2 linked regions of the Homo sapiens genome follow. The protein of the gene in region 1 interacts with the protein of each later gene in a pairwise test. Each region holds a gene or a part of one and is shown in the gene's direction. Other genes may lie near its edges.

The links.
Region 2: the proteins of SLC25A38 (region 1) and ZSCAN16 interact in a two-hybrid assay, tested with the Homo sapiens proteins (one large-scale study listed by BioGRID and IntAct).

What each region holds. Positions count from the first base shown.
Region 1 is NC_000003.12:39,387,142-39,389,982, forward strand, and holds part of SLC25A38 (mitochondrial glycine transporter), read left to right. Parts: exon of another isoform or gene 1-701; coding exon of another isoform or gene 702-724; exon of another isoform or gene 725-2,220; coding exon of another isoform or gene 2,221-2,248; intron 2,249-2,353; coding exon 2,354-2,475; intron 2,476-2,841. UniProt on the Homo sapiens protein: Mitochondrial glycine transporter that imports glycine into the mitochondrial matrix.
Region 2 is NC_000006.12:28,123,095-28,127,021, forward strand, and holds the start of ZSCAN16 (zinc finger and SCAN domain-containing protein 16), read left to right. Parts: upstream 1-1,514; 5' UTR 1,515-1,583; intron 1,584-2,152; exon of another isoform or gene 2,153-2,318; 5' UTR 2,319-2,349; coding exon 2,350-2,736; intron 2,737-3,688; coding exon 3,689-3,827; coding exon of another isoform or gene 3,828-3,847; exon of another isoform or gene 3,848-3,927. UniProt on the Homo sapiens protein: May be involved in transcriptional regulation.

The sequences.
Region 1 (2,841 bases):
CCTAAGTATCCTGGATTTTCACTTTAGACTGGGTGGTATGGTGAAAAGAGTATGAACTTTAAGTCCTGGCCAGTGGCTTCAACCCCTGTGACATAGGACACATTTGTAACCTCTGTGAGCTCCAGTTTAATCTGTAAAACGGGTTTAAAATACCTAGCTCATAAGATGCTATGAGATTTTGAGGTGGTGTCTATAGATGCCTCGCCCAGTGCTACTCTGGGAGCAGAGTGGAGGGTGGGTTGGCATAGTTGAGGCTGGAGACTGCTGCAGAGGTCATTAGGATGGATCAGTGGAGGCCAGACTGGGAAGATTGAGGGCTTGGTCAGTGGGACTTGGTCATGTAGCAGCAGGCATGGTGAGTTTTATGTGTCTCTGAGGTTTCCAACCTGGATTCCTGGAGTATCCCAGTGTGGATTGGAGAAGAGGCAAGTGTGTGGAGAACTGTTGACCAAGTTTCCATTTTGGACATGTTGAATTTGAGATGCCTGTGGGCCATTTGAGGGAAGACAAGGAGACATTAGCAGAGTCTGGGGAGAGGCCAGCCTGGGCTGGAGATGTGGGCATTACCAGCATGTGTGTGAAGCCTGGATATGGGTGAGGTTACTCTGAAAGGAGATAAGAGGAGCAGTCCTATGTGAAGGGCAGGCCAAAGAAGAGAAGGAGAGAGAAACCAGAAACTGTGAGGAGAGGCACTCAGCTATATGGCATGTACCAGAGAGGCCAAGTAAGATAAGGGCAGGGACAGGAACGGGGTCCTGGGGTGCAGCAGGTGCTTGGTGAGCCCTCAGAGGCTGTGTTAGTGGAGGAGATTTAGCTGGATAGCAAACTGGGGGGGCCTGCGGAGGGACTGGCACAGAGCAAGTGGAGATGGTGTAGCGTCAGGCTGGAAAGATGGATGCTTTGGAGCCTGTTGCCTGGCAGAAGAGGAGATGCCAGTGGGAGCGAGAGACCCAGTGTGTGAAGAAGGGGGGCTCATTAATGCCACAAAGTCTTGGGGAGAGACTAGAAACACAGAACTCATGAGAATATTGGTTGGCAGAAGAGCAGGACACCTCTTGGGGAGAGGGAGTTGATGTAGATACAGACTTGCTAAAATACGCACACCTTACTTGGTTTTACCTGTTGTCTTATCAGACCACCCTTTGGTACTTCAGAAGTTATTGCATCGTGGTTGTAAACTCCAGTTTTTAATGACCTTAGTTCCCCCCACCCCCTGCCTCCAACAGTCTTATGAGGAATTCCAGTTATAACTGGCTTCTTTGGTGGAATTTGAGATACACTCTCTTCTCTGTTAAGCAAATACTGCAGATTACAAATATTTCAGTTCCAGGTAAGTAGTTATGTGATGTGTAATGGAAACTTTATATATATTCATCTTAATGTTTTAGGGCCACAATGTGTCATTTATTTAAAAAATAATAGTGCAAATGCCACTTAATAAGGGAAGAGGTCTTTGGGGATGAATTTGCCAAACATTTTTGGAGAAGATAGCTATTTGTTTATTTATTTATTTATTTATTTTAGGGAAGGGGAAGAAGGTCACTGGTTGGATTTTAAGTACCTTTTCACAGTCATTTGTGATACTACTGGGTTCTAGGGGTCTGGAGAAAGGATGCTGTCCTGTAATGATAGCACCAGTGCTGGAAGCTGCAGCTCCTGGAACTAAGGGAGGTATATTTAGTCTTTGAAGGAGTTCCACCCTTCCAGGTGGTGTCTGTAGATTAGCCAGTGTATATGACGGTTCATGGGTTGAAGGAGAAGCAGCAAAGCCAGGGGAGGCTACTGGTCTGTAGGACTGTGTGATCTGCTTAGGGCCCAGTGAGATGGTAAGGGGAAAGTTTTAAATGAAGGAAATACTAGGTTCTACAGGAAGTGGCACTTACATTTTACACAGTGGTTGAGCTTAAGGTTTCATTTGCTTTGGCTTGGTCCTATAAATACCTATAGGTCTTAGAGCGAAGGGAGTCTGCACATCATCAGTTCAAAGTGAAAGCACTGCATTCAATTGACTTTGCTTTTGCAAAGATAGGGAGATGACCAGTAACTTTTTGAGTCAGAACAAATAGGGAAGAGTGGTCAGTGGCATGGAAATAGTTTTGCTCCCACTGAGCAATATGTCTATCAGCAATACGAAGACCAGAGATACCTCTTGCAGCATCCAATGTCCTCAATAACATTGCAGTATTTTTAATTTCTGGCTATACTTTTTCCTTCTCCGAGGTATGAAGAAAACATGAGGCACCACCAGGTAAGTGTCTAAGAGACCATTATAAAGGAATTTGCTGGTCAGGTATAGAGAAAGGTGAGGCTCACACAGGCAGAGCTACTGACACAATATTGTCTTATCCTGCAGTTACATCCGGTGATCAAGGCTTTCCTGTGTGGCTCCATCAGTGGGACCTGCTCTACCCTCCTTTTCCAACCTCTGGATCTCCTTAAAACACGCCTGCAAACCCTCCAGCCCTCAGATCATGGGTAGGCCCTGCATTTCATTGGGGAACTGATTTCAGCAACTTCTCAGACACAGGAACATCTTTACTGTGTTAAGTCAACTTCCATTCTGTTGGATGTTCAGAGAGAAACACAGGCCATGCCCAACTTTCATATGTTCTCTGAATTGTTTTTATATTTGACATTTCTTTTTAATTAAATGGGGTCCGTTCCTGAGCAGCTTCCTGGAATCGGCTCAGTGACATTTACACTTTATTGTGTTAGCTTGTGATGTTATAACTGTATTGCCTGGCATGAGAGTACCAGGGGATTTTCTGGAAATAACATCAGTATTATCTGTTTTTGTTTTTGTTTTATTTGTTTTTTGAGGCAGATGCTCGCTCTGTTGCC
Region 2 (3,927 bases), on another chromosome or scaffold:
GCTACTCAGGAGGCTGAGGCGAGAAGATCACTTGAGCCCAGGAGTTTCAGGCTGCAGTAAGCTATGATCGCACCACTCACTGCACTCCAGTCTGGGTGACAGAGTGAGACCCATCTCCTAAAACAAAGGAAAAGGAAAGAAAAGAGAAAAGAAAATAAACTGAGTAGCTTATCATTTTATCATTTTAGAGTAAAAATACCCTTGCACTCACCCAAGGCTCTCACTATCTCTCCACCCAACGCTCTTTTGCTCACTCAGCTCCAGAAAAACAAGCACCCTTCCTTTGCCCAAAATACTTAAAACACACTCCACTCCAGGCTTTTGCATTTGTTATCCCTCTCCCTGAAACATCTTTATCCCTGATGGCCCATTCCCTCAGCTCCCTCAATCTTTGCTCAAATGTCAATTTCCTAGTCAGGTCCTCCATGAATATCCTATTTAAATTGCATCACTTCATTCTCACCCCAAATTCCCTATTTCCTTTATTTTCTCCTTAGAACTGATATCCACTCTCTATACACTATGTATATTTTTTGGTTTATTGCCTGCCTCCCCAGCACACACACACACACACACACACATACACACACACACAAGATTATAAATTCCATGAAAGGAAGGGCATTGTTTTGCTCAAAATTAGTTCCAGCTTCCACAATAGTGCCTGGCATAGTAGATAAATCAATATTTGTGTAAGAAAGGAGAAGAGGGAGTAAAAAACTAAGAGCATTTTTCACCCATCAATTTGGCAAAGATCAAAATATTTTATAACACTGTGTTGACAAGTATAGGTAAATAAGAATACTGCTAGTAGATCCTATGATTGGTGATTTGGCATTAACAAAAGTACAAATTTCCCTATTCTATGCTGTAGTAATTCCCTTTCTAGACATACAGACTATGGATATATCCTTACACATGAAAAATGATGTGAGTTCACAGTAAGTTATTGCAGCAATGTTTGAAAAAGAAGAATTGGAAACAACCTCATGACCACCAATGGGGTACTTATTAACAAATTATAGAACATAATACACAGTTGAATACCGTGCAGTTGTTTAAAAAAGAGCAAGATCAAGGAAACACTTATGTACAGCCTTTACCAAGACCACCTGGTAAAAAGAAAAATAAGAAAGGTACAGAAGTGCTACTATTTGTGCAGAGGGGAAAAAGCGCGGACAATCTATAACGGTGTAATATATCTACGGAAGGATATACAAGTCACGAAAAATATTGTCAAACTAGACGCTGGGGGACATTTACTCTTTTTAATAAATGTATGTGAATGCATTACTTATCCATATTACTCAATAATTAAACCGAAAAACGTTTTAAAGAAGTACAAATAAGACTTGCTCGCAGATCCCGCAATCCCATCAATACGAGGCGTAAAAGCCGGGTCCTCCACTGGCTAGGGCCGAGGAGGCAAGCACTCAAGCTGCCACAGAGGCGAAGCTTCCTAGAGCGGCCCGGAAGTGCCCGGCTGAAGCGGCCGGGCGCCGATTGGTGTCTTTGAGTCTAGTCTTTGTTCGGGGCTGTCCAAAGGACGCTAGCTGTTGCACCTGTTCCTCCCTGCGCGTAAGGTGAGTGTCTCCCGGCTCCCAGGTGGAGAAAAGGGGACAAGACGCAGCTGTGGTCAGCAGCAACACCCTCCCCACACCTCCCTGTCGCGGGCAGAGTGTAACACTCCTGTCCCTCCCTCCGCCCCCCAACAGATCTACAGGAGAGGATTTGGCCCAGCCTTCCGGGAGAGGATGGGTGGAAGGGGGACACTGGTTGCGGGTTCCTCTGCAGAGGCATCTGTCTGATCCCCTTCCAGGGTTGGCACACATATCCTATAACCAGTGAATCCTGGGGGCACAAGCTGGCCCGTGCATCTCATGGTAACAGAATGAAGAGCCTTTTAACAAAGCCGTTAATAATACTTGGCGTTTATTTAGTGCTTACTAGTGCCCGCTGCCATGCCAGGGACGTTGCATACGTTCTCATGTAATCTGTATATCAACCCTGTAACACACATGAGAATTGTACCTGAGGATCTGTAGTTCTAGTCCAGATAAATAACTTCCTCTAAGTTACACAATAGAGCACAGATTCAAATCATATCCCTGCGTCACTGTTTTTTGTTTTGTTTTGTTTTGTTTTGTTTCAGCTTCCTATAAGACTGTTTTCTCTGATTGACTTCTGGTGGCTTGGCTTCATTATGATGTGTTTATGTTCACAGAAATTTTTGTAATTTCTCTATGGTAACAACTTTTTATGCCTTAGGAGTGTCTCTGAGGCAGGATTCTAAGAGATTCTCTTTGACTCAATCCCAGATAGAGGATAAATCTCCTGGCAAAGCCCAGAATGACCACAGCCCTGGAACCTGAGGACCAAAAAGGACTTCTGATAATTAAGGCAGAGGACCATTACTGGGGACAGGATTCCAGCTCACAAAAGTGCAGTCCTCACAGGAGGGAACTCTATAGACAACACTTCAGGAAGCTCTGCTATCAGGATGCACCTGGACCCCGTGAAGCTCTTACCCAGCTGTGGGAGCTCTGCCGTCAGTGGCTGAGGCCAGAATGCCACACCAAGGAGCAGATTTTAGACCTGCTGGTGCTAGAACAGTTCCTGAGCATTCTTCCTAAAGACCTGCAAGCATGGGTGCGTGCACACCATCCAGAGACTGGAGAGGAGGCAGTGACGGTACTGGAGGATCTGGAGAGAGAGCTTGATGAACCTGGAAAGCAGGTGTGAAGGGGCAGTCATCTGGCTGTGAGTGATCAGGGGATATGGATGGAGCCAAAGCAAAAGGCATATGAAAGAACATCTGAAAATATTTATCCTCTAAAGAACAAGGCATAGGAAGGGACCTGACTACCTATGTCAAATAATTAAAGTGTGGCTGGGTAAAGAGAGGAGAGTCACTAGACTGATTCTATGCCTGTTTGGAAGGCTAGGATCAGTGGGAAGTTACCAAAAGGCAATCAGGTATCAGAGGAAAAGAAATAATTTTCTGCCATTCATAGATACCCATAAATAAAATAGGCTACCCCATAAGAAACTCCCTTTCCATATAGGTATTCAAGCGGAGATTCAAGTAGATGTCAAGGATATTGCAGAATAGGACTGTCCAACAGAAATATAATGCAAGCTGTATATGTATTTAAATTTTCTAGTAGCCACATTAAAAAAAAAGGTGAAATATATATTTTATTTAGCCCACAATATTTAATCATGTAATCAATATTTTTAATGAGGTATTTTAGATATCTGTGCTTTAAATTTTCAAAATTTGGTATGTATCTTACATTTAGCTTATCTCATTTGTACTAGCCATATTTTAAGTACTCAGTAACCACATTTTGCTAGTGACTACCATATCGGATAGCATGGTTATAGAAGAAATGCTCCCATTTGCTGGAAGTTGGGCTAGATGATTTTTAAGCTACCTTCCAAATCCCAGTGCTCTGATCCTGGACTTCTGCAGATCAATGAAAGAAGAGACGTTGAATTTTACTCTCTAGTGTCCTGAATTGTAGAGATTAGCCTCTGTTCCTTCTCCTAGCCATTATTGCCATTTACAATGAAATGAGAATTTGTCCCCCCTTTCTATGTCCCTGGAAGATGTTTCATTTGATTGTTTTATCTGAAGTTACTTAAGTTTCCATAAAATTCACCTTACACACCTCATTTTCCCTAGGTCCCAGGCAATTCAGAAAGACGGGACATACTCATGGACAAGTTGGCCCCCTTGGGAAGGCCATATGAATCACTGACTGTCCAGCTCCATCCCAAAAAGACCCAGCTGGAGCAGGAAGCTGGGAAACCACAAAGGAATGGTAAGCAGGAACAGTTCTGAGTGTATGAGGGTAGAGGTACTTCCTTAGGTTAGAGGAAAACTTTCTCACTTTCATCTTCTCCTTTTAAAGATTTCCTGCT